3 linked regions of the Homo sapiens genome follow. The protein of the gene in region 1 interacts with the protein of each later gene in a pairwise test. Each region holds a gene or a part of one and is shown on either strand. Other genes may lie near its edges.

Region 1 (7,855 bases):
ATACAAACAGGCACAGAGCACTGAAAAGTGTGAATACACTTAGGCCCATGGCATTGTCCCTCTTCATAATGGCACTGGCCATTTTCTTATCAGGGAAAATCCTGAAAGGCAGAAAGTTGCTTCTTCCATGGTGGTCCAAGTCTTAGTTATTACATCCTACTAAAACTAGCCAAAACTACAAGGCACACACTACCACAAGCATTCAAGAGCAATTTTAAGAGAAACCTTGTATTTGTTCCTTTTTAAATATCCCCAATACCTGCATATCCTTCATCATTTAGGATTATGTCTTTAACAGTGGTTCTTAAAGTATGGCCTTGAACTCCTGAGGGTCTCCAAGACCTTTCTAAGGGATCCGAGAGATCAAAACTATTTTCATCATACTAAGATATTCCTAAGAAGTCACTGTAGCATTGTGGACTGTGTTGACACACAGATAGTGCAAAAACAACAGTCGGTACAACTGCTGGCCGCTTAGCACTAAAGAGGGCCGTGGTACTGTCCCTGAATTCTTTACCTTTATGTACTCACAGGAAAATAATGTCAATTTCACTTTTTAAGTGAAATGGTACAGTCATGCTGGAAAAAAACTGTCAGTTTCTCAAAAAACTAAACATACGATTTCTGTACAACCTGCCAATTGCACACTCTTGGACATTTATCCCAGAAAAGGAAAAGTTACATTCACATAAAACTTAGACAGGCTGAGCACAGTGGCTCTAAAATTCCAGCACTTTGGGAGGCTGAGGTGGGTGGACTGCTGGAACCCAGGAGTTTGGGACCCCCAGACTAGCCTGGACAACATGGCGAAACCCTGTTTCTACCAAAAAAATACAAAAATTATCCAGGCATGGTGGCGTGTGTCTGTAGTCCCAGCTACTTGGGGGACTGAGGTGGAAGGATTGCTTCAGCCTGGGAGGTCTAGGGTGCAGTAAGTCATGATCATGCTACTGCATTCCACTCCAGTCTGGGTGACTAAGCAAGACACTGTCTCAAAAACAACAACAAACACCTGTCTATTTGTTCGTAGTAGCTTTCTTAATAGCCCAAAACTAACAGCCTGAATGTCCTTCAAACATGTGAACAGTTAAACTGCTGTACATCCATACCATGGAGCACTACTGAGCAACAAAAAGGAACAAACTATGACATGCACAACAAATAGCGTATGATTCCACTTACATGAGATATGAGGTACCAGCAGTAGTCAAAGTCATAGACAGAAATTAAAATGATGGCTGCCAGGGACTGGCGGGAGGAGGGGAATGGAGAATTATTGTTTAATAGGTACAGAGTTTCAGTTTTGTAAGATAAAGATTTCTGGACATGTATGATGGTTACGGATGCACAATAATTTGAATGAACTTATTACTCTCCCTCCAAAAAGTAAATTACTAATGGTAAATTCAGGATGGGAAGGGGATAGGATGCGGAGAGACACTGGACCAGAGAGGTTTGAAGGTCTTAAAAGGAAACTATTATCTCCTTTATTACACTACATATCCGTTATTCTTAATATCTCACAAATACTTTAAATTTTATATCAACTTACTAGTCAATACTTTTTTTTAAGGAAAAAAGTCCATGATGAAGGAGTACAAATTATTGTTATCAAATCTTGAGCTTTGACTCTTTTTTGTTACTTGTGACCAAATGGCAGGCGTGCACTTCTGTAATAGAGCGATGAGCTGAATTAACTTGCTTGTGTCATGAAATACCATTTTTACGGGAAAGAACAACTGACAAACTAGGGTTATTTAAACCTGTATTGCCGGACACTTCCTTGAAACTGAACAAAGTGAGTCTGTCACTTTGAGGAAAACAATTGACAATATTTTGCTCCCAATGATAAAAAGCAAGCTTTCAACCGAAAATGAGAATTTTGGAAAACTTGTAAACACCACCTTGTATCTGACGGCTTTTAACATAAAGACTTTCCTAATGAAATCAATAGCGATGGTAACGAATGTTATTCGGCGCTATTAATGAAATGCGTCAGCTTGAGATCTGCCAAACTCAGTGAGCCAATATCTTCCAAACGACAAATATATGGTGTTACAATGGGTAACAGCTGCATTCAAACTGCAAGACAGACCAAGGAATTTTAACGTAACTGTGTGCAAAGGCCACTGACAGGAGCTTTAGCTGCATTCAAACTGCAAGACAGACCAAGGAATTTTAACGAAACTGTGTGAAAAGTCCGCTGACAGTAGCTTCAGATTCCACGTCCAAACCAGCCTTTGAGAAACTTCCACTTACGTAGTTTTGGTGTAGTAATAAAGAATACCCATAATTATCTGAAACAGCTATTAAGACAGTACTCACTTTTCCAACTACACATCTGTGTAAGATCAGATTTTCTTCATATAAAAACATACCGCAACAGACTGAACTGCAAAGGAGATGGGAGAACGTAGTTGTCTCTACTAAGTCAGACAACTCAAGAGATTCGCAAACTGTAAAGGACGCCAGTCGTCCCACGAACTCTTTTGTTTTAGCAAAACCCTATGTTGCATAAAAATGTGGTATGTACGTTAACATACCACGGATTTATTCAATGAGTTAATAGTAACTTCAGTGTCTCGGTTTTCCTTTCTAGTACAGTCTATGGAGATAGCCACCATTCCAGGTCCTCTAGTCCCAAGAGGGGTCCTGAGACCAAGACGTCTGCGACCCGCTGATCCCTACTGCTAGAAGATAAATGATTAGCTCGGCAAATACTGATTTGTCTTATGGAACTCTCGGAGCAGCGGGGCGGCGTCAGCGCCTGTGCCACCGCGGACACCCGGGAGTGAACAGCAGCCGTCTCCTCCGCGGGCCCGGACGCAGCCACGCCGCCACCCGAGCGCTGGGGGTCGGGGCTCCGGCCGACCGGGGGAGGCCGCGGGGAAAGCCCGGCCGCCCGCCCGCGCCAGGCCCGGCCCGGCCCGGCCCGAAGGCCCGCCGGGAGCTGCGGGGCGGACGTGGCGGGGGCCGCGCGGTGCGGCCCGTACCTGTGGGTCATCCCGGCCGCCACGCCCAGCATCTCTCCGCTTTCGGCCGCCGCCGTCTCTCAGCCCCTCGTCTCCCGGCGCCGCTCCAGCCGCGTCCTAGTCCCTCGCCGCCGCGGCCGGCTACTGGCGGGCCCGGAGCAGGAAGGGGAGGAAGGCCAGGGGCCGGCCGCGCGGGGGCGCGGGAGGGGGGGGAAGGCGAGGCGGGCCGCGCGGGAAGGCGGGGGAGGGGCGGGAGCGGCTGGGCAAGGAGGGGCGGGGACTGGCGGGGCGGGCGCCGAAGGGCGCGGACTGGAGAGGTAGGCGCGGGGGGGCGGGGCGTTGCGGGGCGGGGCGCGCATCAGACCCCGCCCCAACCCGTGGCTCGGGCCCGCCCCCATTTCAGCACCCCAGGCTAGTCTGGGAGGCTGGCGCAAACGCAGCGGGTGGCTGGGGTAGGGGCTCATTGGGAGCCCACGGAGCGCGGCGGCGGCTCGGGGGCCGAGTTCCCTACAACAAGGATGGCGGTGACGGGCGCAGGGAGCGGGGCCCGGCTCTCCTTGCCTCGAGGCTCCTCTGATTCCACTCGCGTGGCTGCGCGGCCCTGGCAGCGGCCTTCGTCCCGGGGGTGGGAGCTACACAGGGTTCCGCCCCGTCCTGGCGAGGACGCCTGAGGGGGCTCTGTGGTAAGGCTCTGTCGGGCAGGCCGGGCTTCCGGGAGGACCTGGTCTGGATCGGTCACCGCTGGGTGCCTGAGCTCCGCATGGAGCCTGCAGCCTTTGTTTAACTTGTGAGTTAAGAAAAGTTAACCTTTCTTGGAGAGTTTCCAGTCTTGCCTCTGCATCCTGTTCTTCCTTGCTAGCTCTCATTTTCTTCACCCATTCCGTCTATCAAAACCTGAAATTTTGGGGCCGGCGCAGTGGCTCACGCCTGTAATCCCAGCACTTTGGGAGGCTGAGGCAGGCGGATCACCTGAGGTCAGGAGTTCGAGACCAGCCTGACCAACATGGAGAAACCCCGTCTCTACTAAAAATACAAAATTAGCCGGGCGTGGTGGTGGCACATGCCTGTAATCCCAGCTACTCGAGAGGCTGAGGCAGGAGAATCGCTTGAACTTGGGAGGCGGAGCTTGTGGTGAGCTGGGAGATCGCGCCACTGCACTCCAGCCTAGGTAACAGGCTCCGTCCCAAAAAAAAAAAAAAAAAAAAGTGAAATCTCCAAAGGATTTAATAGATTTAATAGATAAGACAAGTTATTCATCCTGGGCATAAATGATCTCTCTCAGGATACCTGATTCTGTAACTATAGCTACTCTCTAGTAATAGAATGAAAACTTTGGTCTCCTGCCAGTCGAGGCATGTCGGAGGAAAACACTGGATCTATTTGATGTCCTCACATGAAAGTAAATTCCAAACAAAGCAAATAGTTAAATGTTCAAAAAACAAAAAAAAAAAAAAAAAAAAAGAGAGAGGTTATGAAAATACCAGAAGAAAACAAGGGAAAAAAACAAAAGTAAGGTTGGAGTGGTGAGAGACTTTTCAAAGAGCATATAAACCATAAAATTAAAAATTGATAAATGTAGGCCGGGCACGGTGACTCACGCGTGTAATCCCAGCACTTGGAGAGGCTGAGGTGAGTGGATCACCTGAGGTCAGGAGTTTGAGACCAGCCTGACCAACATGGTGAAACCCCGTCTCTAATAAAAATACAAAAATTTCACCGGTTGTGGTGGCGGGGTTCCTGTAATCCCAGCTACTTGGGAGGCTGAGGCAGGAGAATTACTTGAACCTGGGAGACAGAGGTTGCAGTGAGCCGAGATCGCGCCATTGCAGTCCAGCCTGGGCGACAGAGCAAGACTCTGTCTCTAAATAAATAAATAAAAATTGATAAATGTAACTACATAGAAATCTAAATTTTCTGCATAGCAAATAAATATAACAAACCCCAACCAAGAAAAATATTTGTAAAATGTATGACAAAAAGTTCTAAATTATTAAAAAAGTTCTAATTATTAAAAAAATCAGTACAAAAATGTTCAACTCAGAGAAAAACAGGTTTCTACAGAAAAATACAAATGATTTCTTAAAGTATCATAAAACAAAAATAAAATACAATTTTTCACAAATGCAAAGATGAAAAGTTTGACTATATATTGTTTTGATGAGGATATAGGGAAACCCTTTTTTCCTCCCCTAGAGGAGGCCTCTCTATGTTACCCACACTGGTCTTGAACTCTTGGACTTCAACTATCCTTTTGAATAGCAGGGTTTACGAGTGCACGTCAGCATGCCTGGCTAATTTATTGTTGATAGGAGTATAAATCCATACACGCTTTGTAAAGAACAAGTGGGCAATAGCTATCAATGTAAAATTCAGCTCTTCTTTGACCCAAGATATTCATATTTTGGAATTTATCTTACAAATGTATTCTTATATGTACACCAAAAGAATGTACAAATTTGGGCATGGTGGCTCACACCTGTAATCCCAGCACTTTTGGAGGTCGAAGCAGGAGGATCCCTTGAGGTTAGGAGTCCAAGACCAGCCTGGGAAGAAAAGGGAGACCCCCCTGCCTTGTCTCTACAAAAAAAAAAAATTAAAAATTAGCTGGGCATGGTGGCGTGCACCTGTAGTTCCAGCCAGCTATAATTGCACCACTGCACTGCAGCCTGGGTGACAGAGTGAGACCCCGATTCAAAAAAAAAAAAAAAAGAAAAAAGAAAGAACAAATTTTAAAGGTCCCTAGGCAACTATCTGTACACTAAATGACATCACTGAAATTTACTTTAAAATGTAGGGGTGGGGAATGTGGGTTGATAACTTGAAACTACCTCATAAATACATTACATTCTTTATATTAGCTTGTCTACTTTAGTGTATATGTGAACATTTCTGTAATAAAAAAGTTTTTTAAAATTGAAAATGGCCGCGCGGTGGCTCAGGCCTGTAATTCCAGCACTCTGGGAGGCCAAGGCAGACAGATCATGAGGTCAGGAGATTGAGACCGTCCTGGCTAACACGGTGAAACCCCGTCTCTACTAAAAAAAAAAAAAAAAAAATGCTGGGCATGATGGTGTGCGCCTGTAGTCCCAGCTACTTGGGAGGCTGAGGCAGGAGAATGGCGTGAATCCAGGAGGCGGAACTTGCAATGAGCCTGTAGCAGGATGAGCCGCAGACAAAACTCCTCAGACTCCGAGTTGAAGGAAGGGGTTTATCTGGCCGGGGGCATCAGCAAGTCTCCTGTCTCAAGGGCCAAGCACCCCGAGTGAGCAATTCCTGTCCTTTTTAAGGGCTCACAACTCTAAGGGGGTGTACGTGAGAGGGTCGTGATCGATTGAGCAAGCAGGGGGTACGTGAGTGGAGGCTGCATGCACCAGTAATTAGACCGGAACAAAACAGGATAGGGATTTTCACAGTGCTTTTCTATACAGTGTCTGTAATCTATAGATAACATAACTGATTAGGTCAGAGGTCGATCTTTAACTACCAGGCCTAGGGTGTGGGGCCGGGCTGTCTGCTTGTGGATTTCATTTCTGCCTTTTAGTTTTTACTTTTTCTTTCTTTAGAGGCAGAAATTGGGCATAAGACAATATGAGGGGTGGTCTCCTGCCTTATTCCTCCCCTTTGAGACTCTCACTCAATAGTAGGAGTTTTCACTTTCATTTTCTTATCTATGTCTTCCTGCAAGACAGATCGATAGTGATTCATTCATATAGTACACTTCTGCTGAAGCATTTTGGTGAACTAAGGTAGCGATGAAACTTTTTATCATTTGAAGAAGTACAGGTAGCAAACAAGGGAGCAGTAAGCAGGTTCCTATTACTATTATAACTTTTATTATAAGAGTTTTAAATCTTCGTAGTGCTGGGAACCATTTTCTAAACATGGCCTCAGGATCAAATCCATGCCACACTTGTACGGGCACATGTGTCAATTTTGTTATATCTGTAACTATGTCTTCAACTACTTGCCCTTGATTATCTATGTATAGGCAGTAATTAGTATGGTTAAATTTCCTACAGACCTCACCTTCAGCTGCTAGCAAGTAGTCGAGAGCTAATCTATTTCGATAGATAGCATTTCTCATCTGAGTTTATTGCCGGGCCAGAAGAGTCAAGGCTCTGCCAGTTTTATTAGTGGTTATTTTTAAGACAGCTTGTAACCGTATGATTCAGTTGATCATGCAAATGGGGGTCTGGTATCCTCACGAGCCGTCTTGTGCCTAAGTAGCAGGCCTATAATATTGCATGATTCTCTTAGGGGGCCATTTATCATGTTTTCAATTTCTTATAGCTATGCTTCTCTTTTCGTGGGAAGCATAGACAGGGAAGCCTAGGATTTCGCCTGTTTTTATGGGCAGTAGGAAGAAAGATGGTTTAATAGTGCCAGTAACACAACTACCTGCCTGCTGGTCGGGTAATTTGGCATAAGCTCTATGCCTACATATCCAGTACAATCTAGTGGGGGCTGTCCAGTCCCGGTGGGACTCCGGGTGGGTCCACACAGTTTGCAACTTTGGGAATTTACTAAATGGATTTCTCTCTGTGTGACTTGAACTCCACCAAGTGACTGTTTTTGTGGTGCCATTATACACTTTCTGTCTCAGACAACTAAGTCATCCTACGGGGTGAGTGAATTCTCTTCCTTCTCTAGCTATGCAATATTGTCCAATAATTGAGGCTTTTAGGACCTAGAAATTATCAGGGTGATTCTTTTGAGCTGGGAATTCATCAGGAACTTGGTCTGTAGGTACTAATTCTTGGGCTTCCTGTGGCCATTGATCTCCTATTACAGTTTCTCCACGTACATAACGTGAAGTGACATTGAGAGACTGGGTTACATGCTCGGCTAATTGCAAAAACAAATTTCTTGTTTTTCCTGGAATT
Region 2 (4,242 bases), on another chromosome or scaffold:
GGACTTCATGGCCCCCCAGGGAAGCCTGGTGCCCTTGGTCCTCAAGGCCAGCCTGGCCTTCCAGGACCCCCAGGCCCTCCAGGACCTCCAGGACCCCCAGCTGTGATGCCCCCTACACCACCACCCCAGGGAGAGTATCTGCCAGATATGGGGCTGGGAATTGATGGCGTGAAACCCCCCCATGCCTACGGGGCTAAGAAAGGCAAGAATGGAGGGCCAGCCTATGAGATGCCTGCATTTACCGCCGAGCTAACCGCACCTTTCCCACCGGTGGGGGCCCCAGTGAAGTTTAACAAACTGCTGTATAACGGCAGACAGAACTACAACCCGCAGACAGGCATCTTCACCTGTGAGGTCCCTGGTGTCTACTACTTTGCATACCACGTTCACTGCAAGGGGGGCAACGTGTGGGTTGCTCTATTCAAGAACAACGAGCCCGTGATGTACACGTACGACGAGTACAAAAAGGGCTTCCTGGACCAGGCATCTGGGAGTGCAGTGCTGCTGCTCAGGCCCGGAGACCGGGTGTTCCTCCAGATGCCCTCAGAACAGGCTGCAGGACTGTATGCCGGGCAGTATGTCCACTCCTCCTTTTCAGGATATTTATTGTATCCCATGTAAAAACAAAAAAACAAAAAACAAAGAAAAGAAAGAGATTTTATAGAAGAAAATGACACACCAAAAAATCCAAATGAAAAACATAATTGCTTCAAAACACTTACACAGTTGGAAAGTTATATGTAAGTGAAAATTTGGACCATTGTGTACAAATAAAAACTAAGATGCATGTTTAATACTCCACACAGCAGCCTGTAATTGCGAATGATGGGATAGAGTTATGTATCAAGTACTGACACTTGGTTGTACCCACTGGAATCATATTAGCTGTTTTATGTTATATGCTTCCACAGTAACCTGCTTATTCAGATCAGTCAAAATATATCAGTATGAAAGATCATAGCTAATGAAAGGCACTCACTCATATTGTTTACTTTAAAATATTTATAAATATGCCTTAAAGAAATACAAATGATAACAATTACATACCGTATTTACTTGCTTAATTTCCTCTGTATTTGTGTAGATACTTTGACATGGAATATATGGTGGGGAGACCCGTAGTGTTACCGCCCCAGTGGGAGGGGGCCCTGGGGACCCTGGTAATGCTTTAGTCAAAGGGATATCTCTCTTGTATCAGAGGCTGTGTCTTTTAGTAACAGGAGTCCTCGTCAGAATTGCGTGTCTGTTGTCTCTAAAAGAATGGGTGAACCAATCGGCCTTTGTGAATTTATTCAGTGCCTTCTCTGTACCAAGCACTGGGTAAGGCACTTTTGTGGAGCATTAGACAGTAACCCTCAAGGAGCTAGAGAACCGGATGGGAGACATGAGCAGTAATTAACTCACTTGTTCCCCAGAGTTTCTATTTGTTTTGATTTTCTTTTTCTGTGACTTATTTTCCTATTTTCTTTCCTCCATGTAATTTTCACTATGGCCCAACTAATATAAACACCTGGAAATTACAAGGAAAAAAAATTCTTCCTCTAATAACTTTCCAAATTTGTGGAATATTTATTTGTAATAGCAGTTATCAGTTATGCTTATATAGCATTAAAAATTCTCCTCCTTTGACTACACACACAACCACAGTGTGGTTCTAATCATGGAGATATCAGTAATTTTTAGTAACTGAATTTTGAGGACATTTCTCTGTTTAGCATGTATGCAAACTGATATGTAATCTGAGGTTCCAAAGTCAATTTTTTTCTTTTTTTTTTGAGATGGAGTCTTACTCTGTCACCCAGGCTGGAGTGCAGTAGCACGATCTTGGCTTACTGCAACCTCTACCTCCTAGGTTCAAGCAATTGTCCTGTCTCAGCCTCCCGAGTACTGGGACTACTGTCTTGCGCCACCATGCCTGGCTAATTTTTGTATATTTAGTAAAGATGGGTTTTCGCCATGTTGGCCAGGCTGGTCTCAAACTCCTGGCCTCAAGTGATGCACCTGCCTCAGCCTTCCAAAGTGCTGGGATTACAGGCATGAGCCACCGTGCCCGGCCAAAGTCAGCTTTCAAAATCCAAGCCATAATTGGTGAGGGGGGAGTTTCAGAATTACATAGAAAAATTAATATTTGAAAAAATAATTCTGAAATTTCGAATTTAAAAACAGATGTGCTGCTTCTGGGTGTAGGTAGTAAAAGTATAGGAAAAGAACTGTTTCCTTAGAAGCGGACTGTGGAAGGGCTATGTAGAATGTCAAAGGGCAACAAGAGCCTGTGTTTTTAATGTCATCCTGTACTCGGCACAAATCAAAGGCCAATACAAGTCTGAAAAGCAGAAATAAATATTTTTCCAGGTTTTTGCTTGGGCACATACTAACTGCTTTGGGCATTCTAATCTGGTCTCCAAACACCAAAGACCCATTTCGAGCCTGCTATTAGCCTGCTGCTGACTCTATCACTTGGAGCAATAATGTGGGGTTATGGTGGTGGAATCTTGTATATTTTTGTCAAAAATAAAACCATGAGTTAAGGGGATAGATATAGATGGAAAAATACACAAATAAATACGGTATGAAAACACATGGAAATGTGTCTTTGTCAAATCTGAATCATTATTACCATCACAAAAATTCTTCTCTTGGCCAATATCTCATTTCCCTATATAGTATACAAGCACCATTTCTTCTCAATTTTTAAGAAGAGAAATTAGTCCATTACCACAGGGGTTCTTGTCACTACTAATTATACAACAATCTTTTCCCAACAAAAAGATGTCCTCCACAACCTTTGTTTTCAAAGCAGACAGCATCTATGTGGCCAAATATACTTTGGGTTGTTCTTGAGGATACTGGTTTTGGGCTGATGACTATGGTGGGCAGCATGGATCCATTGGGCTCCTTCTGCTAAACAGCCACATTGAAATGGTTTAAAAGCAAGTCAGATCAGGTGATTTGTAAAATTGTATTTATCTGTACATGTATGGGCTTTTAATTCCCACCAAGAAAGAGAGAAATTATCTTTTTAGTTAAAACCAAATTTCACTTTTCAAAATATCTTCCAACTTATTTATTGGTTGTCACTCAATTGCCTATATATATATATATATGTGTGTGTGTGTGTGTGTGCGCGTGAGCGCACGTGTGTGTATGCGTGCGCATGTGTGTGTATGTGTATTATCAGACATAGGTTTCTAACTTTTAGATAGAAGAGGAGCAACATCTATGCCAAATACTGTGCATTCTACAATGGTGCTAATCTCAGACCTAAATGATACTCCATTTAATTTAAAAAAGAGTTTTAAATAATTATCTATGTGCCTGTATTTCCCTTTTGAGTGCTGCACAACATGTTAACATATTAGTGTAAAAGCAGATGAAACAACCACGTGTTCTAAAGTCTAGGGATTGTGCTATAATCCCTATTTAGTTCAAAATTAACCAGAATTCTTCCATGTGAAATGGACCAAACTCATATTATTGTTATGTAAATACAGAGTTTTAATGCAGTATGACATCCCACAGGGGAAAAGAATGTCTGTAGTGGGTGACTGTTATCAAATATTTTATAGAATACAATGAACGGTGAACAGACTGGTAACTTGTTTGAGTTCCCATGACAGATTTGAGACTTGTCAATAGCAAATCATTTTTGTATTTAAATTTTTGTACTGATTTGAAAAACATCATTAAATATCTTTAAAAGTATGTTTCTCATCTTGTTCGTATCATTCAGTTGACACTGAACCTCACAAGTATTTTTAAATTCGTACTCTCATGAATTAGCTGCTGAAATAGAGACCTAAAATAAGCATAGCTTATACAGAACAATTTATTCCTCTTTGACTTAAGAGCTCCTAGGATAAGCAGTCTAGGACTCACATGGTAATTCCAATCACAGCCCCAGGCTCCTTCCATCTTATTGCTCTTCTACATCAAGGGTGTTGCCCTCATCTCCATGGTCCAGGATACTAACCATCAGTCACATTCTATCCCCGGGGAGGATGAACAAAGCAGGAAGGACAGGACATGCTTTTTGTCTTAAAGGACTCAACCTAGCAGCTGCTTGGATCACTGTCTCCCACATCCCGTGGCTCCAAATTTAGTCACGTGACCACAAGAAGCTGTAAGGAAGTGTGGGAAATTGAATAGTCTATGTAACCATATGCCCAGCTAAAAATCAGGGGTTCTAGTAGTATGGGAGAAGAGAGAATCAATATTAGGGAATAATTAGCTGCTGCATCTTCC
Region 3 (7,244 bases), on another chromosome or scaffold:
TTGTGATCCGCACACCTTGGCCTCCCAAAGTGCTGGGATTAAAGGCGTGAGCCACCGTGCCCGGCCAATTTTTTGTATTTTTTAGTAGAGACGGGGTTTCACCATGTTAGCCAGGATGGTCGCGATCTCCTGACCTCGTGATCCACCTGCCTTGGTGCTGGGATAACAGGCGTCAGCCATCGCGGCTGGCAAGACATTTGTATTCTATAGCTTAAACATGAAAAGCACATTTATCTATCCCTTTCAGACAATAGAGACCTCACATTATTGTTACTTCCATGACAACTTCTTTACTAATATTTAATTCACTAATATTTAATATTTCAAAGTCCCATCTGATAGGATTTAGCATTAATCACCAAAGTCCAGATGAAAGGATACAGAACAGTTATCCATTACGACAAAATCTCTACCCTGCAAAGGAGAAGATATTTTAGAGAATCTCTGTATTTCACCAATTAATGTGGAAATGTATTCGTTTCTCTGTAGCCATAATGGAAGACTGAATTTCCCTACTTATCTGAGATTCTTATCCGCAGTAGCATTCTCAAGGCTAAGTTCTGGGATTGATCTGAAATCACCCAAAAGAAGAAAATAGACCTGAGAAACCTACCATACATGTTGCGGAGAGGAAACTACACAAATAAGATTTTTTAACAAATTGAATGTAAGACTAGATAATTGTTTTCCCTCAAATCTACTTTCTGCCTCTTTCTCCCCTTTGTGACCCTCCCTTTGCAAACACTTTATCTTGTCTTTCAAGCACTACTGATAAAATACATTCTACATTTAATGAAAAACAGGATCAAATAAGCAAATAAACCTTTTCAAGGGTTTACAAACCCAGGGAGAGGCAATGCTGACCTGGAATACAGACATTTATCTGATTCCAATGTCAGGTGAGGTCACCCTATCCCCTAGGACATCTCCCAGCCCCACCCTGGCTCACTGAGTGCTCAGTGACCAACCTCCCTGAAGACAGTGAATTGTGCCCTGCTCACTCTGCCCCAAGCGCATTTTAACTTTCAGGTTCTCGCACCATTTCAATGGGGCAGGTTTTCCTTCTCCTTTGAGATAGTTTTCCTCCCTTCACTAGACTAAAAACAATCCAGAGGTCAGGAATCATTTGTGTCTTTTCCTCTCAGTAACAGCCTAAGATTGGGTAACCATCAATGTGTCCCTAAGGAACGGAAACTGGGGTTGAGGAAGAAAAGCTGAGCGTCCCAAAGGGTAAACTTTTCAGAGGAAGGGGATACCGGGAGACTCCTCCCACCTCAGGGCATACAGCTGCTCCCGTGAGAGGCCCCACCCCTACACCTTAAGCTGTCCTCTGGGAGGAGTGACCCAGGGGTTGATAATCACTAGATCCTCCAAGAGAAGTGGCAGCTGTGGGTATCCTGGGTCAGGCCCAGGCAGTTCTGAAAATCAGGACCAGGAAAAGATAGAGGGCCACATCACCTTGTAAAGTTTCCAAAGGGGAAACTCCACCCAAAGACATTCTGATTAGGCGTCGGGGCTTAGGAAAGATAAAAGGAGGGGAAGCACAAAAATTTTTTTACCACGGCCGGGCGCGGTGGCTCACGCCTGTAATCCCAGCACTTTGGGAGGCCGAGGCAGGCGGATCACCTGAGGTCGGGAGTTCGAGACCAGCCTGGCCAACATGGAGAAACCCTGTCTCTACTAAAAATACAAAATTAGCCGGGCATGGTGGCGCATGCCTGTAATCCCAGTTACACGGGAGGCTGAGGCAGGAGAATCGCTTGAACCCAGGAGGTGGAGGTTGCAGTGAGCTGAGATCGCGCCATTGCACTCCAGCCTGGGCAATAAGAGCGAAACTCTGTCTCAAAAAAAAAAAAAAATTTTACCGTAGAGTGTCAGGTTCTTATTCTCCGTTTCCCTCTCAGGTTACAAGTACACAAACAAGAGGCCGGGCGCGGTGGCTCACGTCTGTAATACCAGCATTTTGGGAGGCGGAGGTGAGCGGATCACCTGAGGTCTGGAGTTTGAGACCAACCTGGCCAACATGGAGAAACCCAGTTTCTACCAAAAATACAAAAAGTAGCCGGTCGTGGCGGCGCATGCCTGTAATCCCAGTTACTCAGGAGGCTGAGGCAGGAGAATTGCTTGAACCCGGAAGGCGAAGGTTGCAGTGAGCTGAGATCTTCCCACTGCACTCCAGCCTGGGCGACAGAGCGAAACTCTGTCTGAAAAGAAAAAAAAAACAACAAACAGAAAACAAATCCTTTCAAAAGAGTATGGTGAAAGAAACTATAAACAACTAAAATACTGTGTCTTAAATGTCAAACAAAAAACAGCTGATAATGTTGATTTGGCGAGGGGAGGTCACCTTTGGGAATGCGGGGAAGGAACCGGAAATTTAGGCATTTATTTCCAGCCCCAGAAAAAGCTAGGCTAAAAAAAACGGGAGTCGTAGGTTTGAGATTCTTTTTCCAGTACGTTTGGAAGACTCGGAGGAAGACCAGTCCCCCGGAAAAAAAGACGATGTACTGGGAAGGCCACAGCCCACAGCTCTTCCCATGCACGAACCGCACACCCGAGACGGGATTCCGCCTTATGACCCTCCCGTGTCCCAGTACAAACAATCTGGAGAGAGGCGGGGCTGCGGGCGCGGAGCTGCCCAGACAGGGCTCCGAGGCCGAGGCCGCAGTCGCCGCGCAGGGACGGGACAGGACGCCTGGGGTACTGGCTACGGCCCAACCCACCCTGCGGCCGAGGGGACAGAGGGCCGAGCTGCGCCAGGGAACTCGGGTCCCAGACCCTGGAGTCGCTGCAGGGAGGCCAGGGTGCTTCCACAGCCGGTTCCGGCCGGTTCCCACAAGCCCCTCCCCCAGTCTCCAGGCGCCCGGCCCCGCACACGCACCATTTCCTGGCTTCCAGGGTGTCCCGGGGTCCTGCCTACGGCTCTCTCCGGCCTGTGCAGGTCCCAGCGCGCCAGACGCTGCGGTGGAGCCACCGGGGCCACTGGAGAAGCGGAGACCGGAACCCAAACGCAGCGGACACGAAACAGGAAGACCCCGCGGAGTTGTTGAACATTGCCCCTGTCCCCCTTGCAGAGTTCCTGATTGGATGGTTTGCAGGTTCCCGCCCCAGTGCCCCTGATTGGGTGATGATTCAAGTCCTGCCCCCTTGGTACTGAGTGACAGGAGAAGCAATGCGGTATGTGGCTGAGTAAAGACAGATTGACAGGGTCTTGGCCACTGCCCTTCGCGGGCCGGGCTTCCTCCTTCTGTAACCTTCTGTGCCGGGGAGGATATTTGCATTTAAGCAGAAAGTGTTTCAGGCTCTGCAGAGGTGACACTGGCGTGTTTCTGCACTCAGGGTGCCCTTCCTGCCTTTTCCTCCCGGACACAGAGTCACAAGTGTGCACAGGGAATGACAGACTCGGCGTCCAGTGGAGCCATCCCCTGGCCTCGGAGTAGGAGGCGCGCCCAGGCCAGGCCAGACCACAGTGTAACAGGAGGGAGGAGGGCTTGCTTCTTTCAGGCAAGAAAATTAAAACGGACAAAGAAATAAAAGTATTAAATGTATAGGAAAAACTGGAGTTTTTATGACAGCGATCATCTATAAAGAAACCAAGAGAAGTAAGCAAACATTTGAACTAGCTCAGACAAGCAGCCTGCTTCACCCGCAGTTCACAAGGAAAACCCACAATCATAACGTTAAAAATATTCCCAAGCGCCGGGCGCGGTGGCTCACGCCTGTAATCCCAGAACTTTGGAAGGCCAAGGTGAGAAAATTGCTTAAGGTCAGGAGTTCAAGACCAGCCTAACCAACATGGTGAAACCCCATCTCTACTAAAAATACAAAAATTAGCCAGGCGTGGTGGCAGGTGCCTGTAATCCCAGCAACTCGGGAAGCTGAGGTACGAGAATCGCTTGAACCTGGGAGGGGGAAGTTGCAGTGAGCCGAGATAGCGCCATTGCACTCCAGCCTGGGCGACAGAGCGAGACTAAAAAATGAAATATGAAATGAAATGAAATAATGAAATGAAGAAATGAAATATAAAATAAAATAATCCCAAGCTTGGGACCCAGACTCTAACTGCTGAAATGGAACCCCAGTGTGGATCAGAACCTGGTGATGAGACAGGGACACTTAAGAATTCAACTTTGGGAGCTCAAGGTGCCCTCCAGTCCTCTCCTCACAGTGTGGAAACACTCTTTCCTTCAAAACCTTCATTTGTACCAGCAGGAAACTCTCACCCGGAGTCAATGTAAAGTCGTGACCTAAATAAATTGTCATGTTCCCAAACCTTTTCTCCAGGGGACAATGCAAACAAGTTTTTCACTGAGTCTGACCCTCACAGATTTTCTTCATGTATACAAATTACAGCCTGACTCAGCGACCCCATGAATGCTAAAACCAAAACACTGTCCAGGAAATGGCCCCAGGCGCCAAAGGTACAACCTCAGAAAAGACAGAACCCTCCACCCCCAACCCAACCACATCTGCACATGGGTCTCCTGCTTTTCACAGCTCTGCAGCTTCTCAGAATCCACATTCCTGGCCAGGCGCGGTGGCTCACGCCAGCACTTTGAGAGGCCCAGGCGGGCGGATCACCTGAGGTCAGGAGTTCGAGACCAGCCTGGCCAAATGGTGAAACCTCGTCTATAGTAAAAATACAAAAATTAGCCGGGCGTGGTGGCGCGTGCCTGTAATCCCAGCCACTCGGGAGGCTGAGGCAGGAGAACCGCTTGAACCCGGGAGGCAGAGGTTGCAGTAAGCCCAGACTGCGCCACTGCACTCCAGCCTGGGTGCCAAAACAGTGAGACTCTGCCTCAAAAAAATAATAAAAGTAAAAAATAAAATTAAAATTAAAAAAAGAATCTGCACTCCTGAGCAGCTGGAGGCCACCTGCAAGGGCGGGCAGGCTGCCCAAGAAGCACCCTTTCCCTCTCTTTGCAGGCTCCAGACTGGTCTCAGGCTCTCCTGCCCACTGCAGTTTATTCACTTGCTTCTCACCAACACTGATCCACTTAGGTAAGAAAAAAGACCTTCAATCCCCTTTGCTGTTTGTTTGTTTTTAAGAAACTAGCAGAGTTCCTGCTTTCCTTCTGTGGTTATGTATAAGCTGGAAGACAAAAAATTCTAAAATACTTTATATGGATTTTAAAACTGGCAAGTAATGATTCCTTTGAGAAAACAAAGATATCAGCTATGCTATTATGATTTATACATTGGTTTCCATCCATGCTTCCTGACTCATAACTCCCATAGTCCTTGTTACAGTAAACAGAAACTCTCTCTCTCTGACCTTCTCCTGCCCCCCATTCACCTGTCCACTGCAGAACTCTAATGTGATCGTGGGTCATAAGACTCTCACTCCAAAGAGTGTCCTGTCCTGTACGCTGGGGAAAGGAATGCTACACAGAAGCCAAAAATTATCTGGACAGGGGTTGGATGCAGTGGTTCACGCCTGTAATCCCAGCACTTTGGGAGGCTGCGGAGGGAGGATTGCTCGAGCCCAGGAATTCAAGACCAGCCTGGGAAAGATGTCGAGACCCCATCTCTATGAAAAATAAATAAAAAGGCCGGACGCGGTGGCTCATGCCTATAATCCCAGCACTTCAGGAGGCTGAGGTGGGCGGATCATGAGGTCAAGAGATCGAGACCCTCCTGGCCAACATGGTGAAACCCCCGTCTCTACTAAAAATACAAAAATTAGCTGGGCGTGGTGGCGCGTGCCTGTAGTCCCAGCTACTTGTAGTCCCAGCTACTTGGGAGGCTGAGCCAGGAGAATCACTTGAACCCAGGAGGCAGAGGTTGCAGTGAGCCGAGATCACTACTGCACTGCAGCCTGGCCGACAGAGTGAGACTCCGTCTCAGAAAAAAATATTTTTCTTTTTATGTATTATTATTATTATTTTGAGACGGAGTCTTGCTCTGTCGCCAGGCTGGAGTGCAGTGGCGAGATCTCAAGTTGCTCACTGCAACTTCCGACTCCTAGGGTTCAAGCGATTCTCCTGCCCCAGCCTCCTGAGTAGCTGGGATTACAAGTGTGTGCCACTAAGCCTGGCTAATTTTTGTATTTTTAGTAGAGATGGGGTTTCACCATATTGGCCAGACTGGTCCTGAGCTCCTGACATCAAGAGATCCACCCGCCTCCGCCTCCCAAAGTGATGGGATTACAGGCAAGAGCCACTGTGCCCAGCCTAATAATTTTTTGTCTCCTTTCTTTAAAACTGTTTTAGGTGTGGCGTCACATGGCGTGGCAGCACATGGTGTGGTGGTACATGCCTGTAATCCCAGCTACTCAGGAGGCTGAGGCAGGAGAATCATTGAACCCACCAGGCAGAGGTTGCAGTGAGCCGAGATCTTGCCACTGCACTTCAGCCTGGGTGACAGAGCAAGACCCTGTCGAAAGAAAGAAAGAAAGAGAGGGAGGGAGGGAGGGGGAGAGAGAGAGAAAGAAAAAGAAAGAAAGAGAGAGGAGAGGAGAGAAAAGAAAGAGAGAAAGAGGGAGGGCCGGGTGCAGTGCGGTGGCTCACGCCTGTAATCCCAGCACTTTGGGAGGCCGGGGTGGGTGGATTGCCTGAGCTCGGGAGTTCGAGACCAGCCTGGCCAACATGGCGAAATCCCGTCTCTACTAAAAATACAAAAAATTAGCTGGGCGTGGTGGCGGGCGCCTGTACTCCCAGCTACTCGGGAGGCTGAGGCACGAGAATCACTTGAACCTGGGAGGTGGAGGTTGCAGTGAGTCAAGATCGTGCCACTGCACTCCAGCCTGGGTGACAGAGTGAGACTCCATCTCAAAAAAAAAAAAAAAAAGAGAGAGAGAAAGAAAGAAGGGAGGGAAGGAAAGAGAGAGAAAGAGAAAGAAGAAGGAAGGAAGAAAGAAAGAAAGGAAGGAAGGAAGGAAGGAAGGATTATACCAGTGCTGGGGAGGACATAAGAGAAACTGGATTCTACTCCTACTCCTACTCCTACTTTGGTGGTGGAAATGTAAAATGGTACAGAGAGCGCGGTGAGACGCAGAGTGCGGCCGGCTTGCCGAGTCCCAAGCAGGCAGGTGAGCTGGAGGGCGGGGATGTCCCGGGACAGGCCGCGGCCCCTGCCCCGCAGACACCGGGGCCCTCGCTGTGCCGGGCACAGACGAAGCCCCAGCCGAGACGCAGCGCCTCCAGGTGGCTGCGGGAGCGGCGGGCGGGAAGCGGGGCGGTCGCGATGGGGCGTCAGGGTGCAGAGGGCCCTGGAGGCGGTCTAGGGACACAGGCTCGGCCGCC

What was found.
Region 2: the proteins of LIMS1 (region 1) and COL8A1 interact in binary tests that used the Homo sapiens proteins (3 or more experiments, as listed by UniProt).
Region 3: the proteins of LIMS1 (region 1) and ZNF564 interact in binary tests that used the Homo sapiens proteins (3 or more experiments, as listed by UniProt).

What each region holds. Positions count from the first base shown.
Region 1 is NC_000002.12:108,529,733-108,537,587, reverse strand, and holds the start of LIMS1 (LIM and senescent cell antigen-like-containing domain protein 1), read right to left. Parts: upstream 3,119-7,855; 5' UTR 3,026-3,118; coding exon 2,994-3,025; intron 1-2,993. UniProt on the Homo sapiens protein: Within the IPP (ILK-PINCH-PARVIN) complex, binds to F-actin, promoting F-actin bundling, a process required to generate force for actin cytoskeleton reorganization and subsequent dynamic cell adhesion events such as cell spreading and migration.
Region 2 is NC_000003.12:99,795,516-99,799,757, forward strand, and holds the end of COL8A1 (collagen alpha-1(VIII) chain precursor), read left to right. Parts: coding exon 1-621; 3' UTR 622-3,702; downstream 3,703-4,242. UniProt on the Homo sapiens protein: Macromolecular component of the subendothelium. Major component of the Descemet's membrane (basement membrane) of corneal endothelial cells. Also a component of the endothelia of blood vessels.
Region 3 is NC_000019.10:12,548,449-12,555,692, forward strand, and holds the start of ZNF564 (zinc finger protein 564), read right to left. Parts: upstream 3,035-7,244; 5' UTR 2,885-3,034; coding exon 2,882-2,884; intron 1-2,881.